Homo sapiens: one gene and its partner. The protein of the gene in region 2 interacts with the protein of the main gene of each other region in a biochemical or structural test. Each region holds a gene or a part of one and is shown on either strand. Other genes may lie near its edges.

Region 1 (3,745 bases), on a different chromosome or scaffold from region 2:
AGTTACACAATTTAAGGCTTTCAATAGTGAACTCTGAAATTGATGACATACAACCTATTAGTTTGTGGACTTCTGGGAAAAGCTCTAAAGAAAGAATTTGGAAATTCTGGAGAAAGTCTGAACTGTGTTAAAGAAGCAACAGCTTCTGTAACCTCAGAACTGCCTCCTCTCCCTTTTCTACCTTGGCTAAGATCAGGAGCTGCCAACATTGAATGTCTGACTTTCCCTTGAAAATACTGCCAATGGAAAATGTTATTTCAGGCATTAGAGTTAAAATTTCTATGTGTGTGTGTATGTGCGTGTATTTGCAAGTCCAGACTTTATTTTCTTCTTTCTTTCTTTTTTTTTTGAGATGGGGTCTCTGTCTGTCACCCAGGCTGGAGTGCTGTCATGTGATCTCGGCTCACTGCAACCTCCGCCTCCCAGATTCAAGCGATTCTCCTGCCTCAGCCTCCTGAGTAGCTGTGATTACAGGCATGCACCACCATGCCCAGCTAATGTATATATATATATTTTTTATTAGAGATGGGGTTTCACCGTGTTGGTCAGGCTGATCTCGAACTCCTGACCTCGTGATCTGCCCATCTTGGCCTCCCAAAGTGCTGGGATTACAGACGTGAGCCAACCCACCCGGCCTATTTCCTTATTTCATTTACAGCAAGCTTGGACTTGTTTGGAATAAAATAAACAATCAAACATAATCTCAAAGACATTTCTGCTGAACAGTGTATCCTGGGGACAAATTATGCAAAACAATACAAATCAAAGAAATAGGAAGGAAAAACAAAATGGTCAGAAGGTTGACAACAAAGTGCATCACAAAAACAGTCTTCAAAGAGTTTGTATTTTATTTTTGCCCACAAATAATTAGCTAGTTAGATTACTGTTTGAGAACCTATAATTTTTAGAAAGTGGACTATTTTCTTCAATACTAAGAAATCAGGGCTGTGCACGGTGGTTTATGCCTGTAATCCCAGCAGGCCGGGATTACTTGAGCTCAGGAGTTCGAGACCAGCCTAGGCAACATAGTGAAACTCCGTCGCTATAAAACAAAACAAAACAAAACAAAAAACCAAAAATTGGCCAGGCGTGGTGGCACAGGCTTATAGTCCCAGCTACTTGGGAGGCTGAGGCAGGAGGATCGCTTGAGGCAGAGGTTGCAGTGGGCCAAGATCGTGCCACTGCCCTCCACCCTGGGCGACAGAGCAAGATCCTATCTTTTAAAAAAAAAAGTCTGTCTGGAAGTCCTTACTTTATATTTAATTGTCAAACTCCTTTCCCCCATCTCTTGACTTCACCTCTCTCTACATCCCCAAGCCAAGAATGATGAGAAATGGACAGATGTTAGCACGAGTTGGGTGCGCTTTGGGCATGGGGAAGTCTGAGGTCTCGGAAAATCTTTTCTACATATACACCCGGCCCTCACTTTCTGGACGCACGCAGCAAACTCTCAAAATAAAACCACCAAAAAGGAGAAGGGGGGGCGTCGCCCACCGCTCCTGGCATTCCGCGGCTGCCAACTCTTTCCCTCCCATCTGGCTCCTGGGATGCCCGCGGGGGAATCGCAGTGAGCAGCGCGGGGCGAGGCCGCCGCGGACGCCCCGTCGGATGTGCCCTTCGCTGGGCCGAGCGGCGCAGGGTTGGAGAGGGAAGCGCTCGTGCCCACCTTGCTCGCAGGTGCCCTTGCTGACCTGGGTGATGGCCTTCTCCCCGCGGCTCTCGGCCCTCTGGCTGGCGGCGCGCAGCTGGCAGCCGCTCGGGTAGGTGGTGCCGTCGCTGCCGCACACCGGGTAGCGGCTCTTGCACACGCACACGCCGCTTACACCCGGACCGCCGGCTGCTGCCCCGGCTTTACCCTTCCGCCTCTTGCGGCTCTTCACGCACTCCATGCCCGGCGCGCAGTACCCCCTGCCGGCGCCGCCACCCCCGCACGGCTCGCCCTCGCCGCGGGCGCACATAGGGCAGCAGCCGCACGCGTCGCGGGTCTCGCCCAGCAGGCAGCCCAGCGGGGGCAGGGGCGGGCAGGAGGCCGGCTCGCAGGGGCCGCAGGTGTCCGAAGAGGAGGAAGAGGAGAGGGGCAGGAGCAGGAGCAGCAGCCCAGCGGCGCCGAGGAGCAGGGCGCGCAGCGACGGCCGCTCCATGGCGGGGTGCGGTGGCAGCGGCAAGGGCGCGAGTGAGCCGTGTCGGGCCGGCCGGCGCCTTAAACCCGCCGCCCCGCCCGGCCTGTCCGCGGGAACCACACCCCGGGGCGGTGAGAGCACGGGGGCCCCGCCCGTGCCGCCCTCCCGGCCCCGCGGGGCCTGCGCGCGCGCTCCTGCTGGCGTCGGGGGGTGAGCGGGCACCCGGCGTGACCGGCCCATGGGCGCTCGGTCTCACGCCCGCTTCGCAGAGCTCACCCCGCCAGCTCCTGCTCGGTCCCCAGTCCCCTGCCCCGAGCCCTCAGGGATCGCACCGCAGTGCGAGCGGCTCTTCCACCCTCTGGTTTCTCCCCGTTTCCGGTCAATATATTTAAACTTCTTAACAACCACGGCTTCGAGACGATCCAGGGTTTCATCTATTAAATCCTCCGTGGGCCTGAGACACCTGAGTGCTCATTACTCTGTGGTTTGGGAAGCTCTCTTAAGAACAAGCTGTTAAAAACCCCCACTTGTGGACTGTGTCCCCGCTGGCCACAGGCCTGCTGTGGTCTTGGGTGTCAAGCACTAAAAGGACAAACCGTTGCCAACCACTTCCCTTTCTGGAACCTCTTAACTGCCTGCACCTCCCTCCCCGCTTTGTCTCCCAGTGGCATTCAACAAGACTCTGTGCTTTTTTTGTGCTGAGCCGTTTTCAGTGAGTACTGGAATCCGTGTGAGAGCTGTGCCCTTGTTTTGAGTTCTTGCTGAACTGCTCGCCCTCCAGCAAGCCTCTCGGGAGAACAGAGCGCAGCTGAGAGGAGCAGGGGTCCCAGCTCCTTCCTCGTTGGAGCTGCCACGGAGGCACCTAAAGCGCCCCCAGTCTTCACCAGCATTCCAGGAGGTTTTTGATATAAACGGTGGACTCTTCCTCAGTCTTTCTGCGAAGTGCTCTGCAAACTCAACTTGAAAGCCTCTCTTCCCAGGAACACTGGCCTCTCCAATGCAGACATGGAAGTTGCTTTCACTTTTTAACTGAATGTGTAACATTGCAGCGTGCATTATTCTGCATGTCACATTGTGGTTCTTTTGTGTTCTTTTTTCTTAGCATAAATCCAGGGATTTACAGGGTTGCTGACTGAAAGCCAGCAGTTCAGTTCATAATCCCATTAGCAGTGTAAAGAACTCATTCTCAACAGACTCTTACAAGGATAATTATTGCAAATTTTTTGAAAATTAAATGACCACAAAATCGGGGGGTGGAGAGTGGGGAAACATCCTCCAATCCAGAAAAACCTAGCACTGCTTTTTGGCCTCTCCTTAGTGTATTATAGACAAGTGGAGCATTTTTTTTCCCCTCAAAGGTCATATGTTGACCTGACAGTTGTTTAAAAAACAATGAAAAATCTTTACAGCAGAGTTTCCCTAAATATTTTTGTCTTTGTTCCATCCTAAGAGATGCAGTTTACATGACCCATTTGTTTTCTTGAAAAGGAAACAAATGCAGAGTGCACTCTATTTCCTATTGTATTTAATTTCTTTCTTTCTTTCTTTTCTTTTCTTTCTTTTTCTTTTTTTTATTTTTTTGAGATGAAGTCTCCCTGTGTCGCCTAGTCTGGAGTGCAGTGGTG
Region 2 (3,645 bases):
CTGTGACCTTGGCTGTCTCTGGGAGCAGGGCTGGGGTACCTGAGTGGGGTGCATTTGGGGTGTGTGGGAAGGAGAGGGAAAGAAAGATGGACAGTGGGACTCTCCCCTAGCAGGGTCTGGTGTTCCGTAGGCTAGAGTGCCCCTCTGCTCTGCGAGTGCTGGGCGGGAGGGGAGTTGGTGAGAGCTGGAGACCCCCAGGAAGGGCTGGCAGAAGCCTTTCCTTTTGGGTGCTGTCAGGTCCGCATGTCTTGGCGTGTTGACCTTCACAGCTTCTGGCGAGGGGAGGAATGATCTGATGCGGGTGGGGAGGGTTAGAGGAGGCCTCAGGCCTAAGGTGGTGCAGGGGGCCCCCTAGGGGCTGGGCAGTGCCAAGGCATAAAAGCCTTCCCTGGTCCCTGGTGGCATTTGAAGGTGCCCAGGTGAGAGGGGCTTGGCACCTCCTCACCCTGGGAGGGAGAAGAAACCAGGGAACAGGTAGGAGTGGGAGACAGGTGAGGCTTTGGAAATCTATTGAGGCTCTGGAGAGATTTGTGTAGAGAGGAAAATGTGGTTCTCCCCCAGGGTCTCCTCCTGGGTTTTTACCCTCTAAGCAACCTGTGGGCATGCTGGGTTATTCCTAAGGACTAGAAGAGCTTGGATGGGGGAGGGTGGTTGGTGCCCTTCGGTCCTCGGCACCCCCCTCCGTCTCCAACACCAGCTCACCCTGGTATTTGTCATGTCAGCAGGAGAAGGTCACCATGTTGTTTTTCTCGCCCCTAGTCCTTCCTTCCTGCCCCAGTCCAAATTTGTCCTCCTATTTGACCTTAATACTTACCATGGCTTTGGACCAGGGAACTAGGGGGATAGTGAGAGCAGGGAGAGGGAAGTGTGGGGAAGGTACAGGGGACCTCGACAGTGAAGCATTCTGGGGTTTTCCTCCTGCATTTCGAGCTCCCCAGCCCCCAACATCTGGTTAGTCTTTAACTTCCTCGGGTTCATAACCATAGCAGTCCAGGAGTGGTGGGCATATTCTGTGCCCGTGGGGACCCCCGGTTGTGTCCTGTTCGACTCAGAAGACTTGGAGAAGCCAGAGGCTGTTGGTGGGAGGGAAGTGAGGAGGGAGGAGGGGCTGGGTGGCTGGGCCTGTGCACCCCAGCCCCTGCCCATGCCCATGCCTTGCTCTCTTTCTGTCCTCAGTGGTCCCAGGCTGCACCCATGGCAGAAGGAGGAGGGCAGAATCATCACGAAGGTGAGTCCCCCTGGCTGTTGGATGGGGTTCCCTGTCCTCTCAGGGGATGGGTGGATGGCCTAATTCCTTTTTCTTCAGAACTGTGGGGAGGAAGGGGAAGGGGCACAGGAATATAAGGATCAAGAAAGAAAGAGCTGGGCACCACGAGGTTCACCCTCAGTTTCGTGAGGACTCTCCGCTGTTCAGGTCTCTGCTAGAAGTAGGACTTGTTGCCTTTTTCTTCTGCTCTTTCCAGTAAAATTTTATTTGGAGAAGGAGTCGTGCGCACAGAGCAGGAAGACAGTGTTCAGGGATCCTAGGTGTTGGGGGAAGTGTCCCTTGTTTCCCCTAGCTCCCAGGGGAGAGTGGACATTTAGTGTCATTTCCTATATAGACATGTCCCATTTGTGGGAACTGTGACCCTTCCTGTGTGAGCTGGAGGCACAGAGGGCTCAGCCTAATGGGATCTCTCCTCCCTTCCCTGGTTTGCATTCCTTTGGGGGTGGAGAAAACCCCATTTGACTATGTTCGGGTGCTGTGAACTTCCCTCCCAGGCCAGCAGAGGGCTGGCTGTAGCTCCCAGGCGCCCCGCCCCCCTGCCCAACCCCGAGTCCGCCTGCCTTTTGTTCCGTTGTGGTTTGGATCCTCCCATTTCTCTGGGGACACCCTGGCTCTCCCCACCACTGACTGTGGCCTGTGCTCTCCACCTCTGGGGAGGGAAGGCCCTGGGGTCTTCCTTCCCGCGAGTTTCCCTGACCTAAATCTGGCGTGGCTGGGTAGTGGCCAGCAGTGGTGATGCCCAGCCTGTTCTGCCTCCTCCTTCCCCACCCCAGGAGCCCTTTCCTTGGCCTAGGACCTGGCTTCTCAGCCACTGACCGGCCCCCTGCTTCCAGTGCGCCACTTACCCCTTCCAGCTTCCCAGTGGTCTCTGGTCTGGGAGAGGCAGGACAAAGGTCTTTGTTTGCTGGAGAAAAGGTTGTCTGCGATAAATAAGGAAAACCACGAAAGCCTGGTTGTTGGAGTGTACGTGTGTGCTCCCCCAGGCAGTGGAGGCCAGCCCTCCTTGGAGGGGCGGCTGCCTGATGAAGGATGCGGGTGAGGTTCCCCGCCTCCACCTCCCATGGGACTTGGGGATTCATTCCAAGGGGAAGCTTTTTGGGGGAATTCCTACCCCAGGTCTTTTTACCCTCAGTTACCAACCCCTTGCCCAGGCCAGACCTTCCTGCTATCCCCTCCTGGGCCACAAGCCTGGCCCTCCTCTGTCCCAATTGTGATGAAGGGGCAGTTCAAAACTTCTTGATTAGTCATCTTCTCCCCTATCGACTTGGCTTTAAAAAATGACCTTTTCAGACTTCTAGTCTCGTTCACTCTTTTTGATGATGCTTTGCCGTAACCCTTCGTGGGTAGAGAAGGATTCTGTGCCCATTGGTGGTCTGGATAAAAGAAATAGAGACCTCACAGGAAGCAGTGGACTGGCCTGTTTCCCCACTGTTCTTTCTGTTTTCACACCTGTGGCCTTCTCCCCACCTTCTTCCCAATCAACCTATTGTGTACATAGCCCCCCTCATTGTCCTTTATTCTTCTGGAAAGCAGACCTTGGAGGGAGGAGTGAGGGGGAGGCTCAGCTGTGGTCTCTGGGGGGTGGGGGTTGGGAGCTGGGGTGGAAGTCCACGAAGCATACACTTAAGATGCTTTGGTGAAGTTCTAAACTTCATATTACCCAGGCTGAAAAAAGAGCACTTGTTCCTAGGGCTGGAAATGGAAGCCAAAACACCACCTTTTTCAGCCTGTTTCAGCATCTTTAGAGATCAGCCCAACCCACTTACACAGTTGAGCAGAGTTGGAGGCCTAGAGAGGGGAGGGACTGGCCCAAGGTCATACCAACTCATGGCCAGAGCCTGGGCCTCCTCACTGGCCAGGTGTTATTTCTTCCCTCTGGGTAGGGAACCTATTTCAGGGACAGGATTGCTATGTGGTAGTGGTGGTGGGGTGCGATAGGCGTGGCAGGCTGGGCCACAATTTGGAGTAGTCATGCCAGAGTCCTGCATTTATTTATTCTCAAGGGCCCCGCCTCTGTGGCCCAGAATTACCCCTTCATGCTCCAGTGCACCCCAGGCTTCGTGGCCAGCCTGGGAAACTGTCTCTACCCTGGTCTCCCTTCAGATCAGCTTCTAGAAATGTTTCGTGGCTACAGTGGCAGCACTGTTTTTTCCATGATGCAAGCAGTTTGCCCTCTTGGGCGGGGTTATCAGTGGCTGGCAGGGCTGGCACAGCGTGTCCGCCCACTGCCACCTGTGGGTTCCAGGAGGGCCCAGCCCCTGTGCTGATGCCCACCACCTTCTCAGCTCATGTCTGGGGAAGAGGACTGGCAGGGGGAAAGGTGCCTCCTCCTGAAAGGTGCCTCCTCTGTTTTTGCCTAATATAGGCTTGGGAACACT

What was found.
Region 1: the proteins of VEGFA (region 2) and IGFBP7 form a complex in vitro, tested with the Homo sapiens proteins (one study listed by BioGRID).

What each region holds. Positions count from the first base shown.
Region 1 is NC_000004.12:57,108,211-57,111,955, forward strand, and holds the start of IGFBP7 (insulin-like growth factor-binding protein 7 isoform 1 precursor), read right to left. Parts: upstream 2,176-3,745; 5' UTR 2,142-2,175; coding exon 1,667-2,141; exon of another isoform or gene 1,552-1,666; intron 1-1,551. UniProt on the Homo sapiens protein: Binds IGF1 and IGF2 with a relatively low affinity. Stimulates prostacyclin (PGI2) production. Stimulates cell adhesion. Acts as a ligand for CD93 to play a role in angiogenesis.
Region 2 is NC_000006.12:43,773,165-43,776,809, forward strand, and holds part of VEGFA (vascular endothelial growth factor A, long form), read left to right. Parts: intron 1-1,176; coding exon 1,177-1,228; intron 1,229-3,645.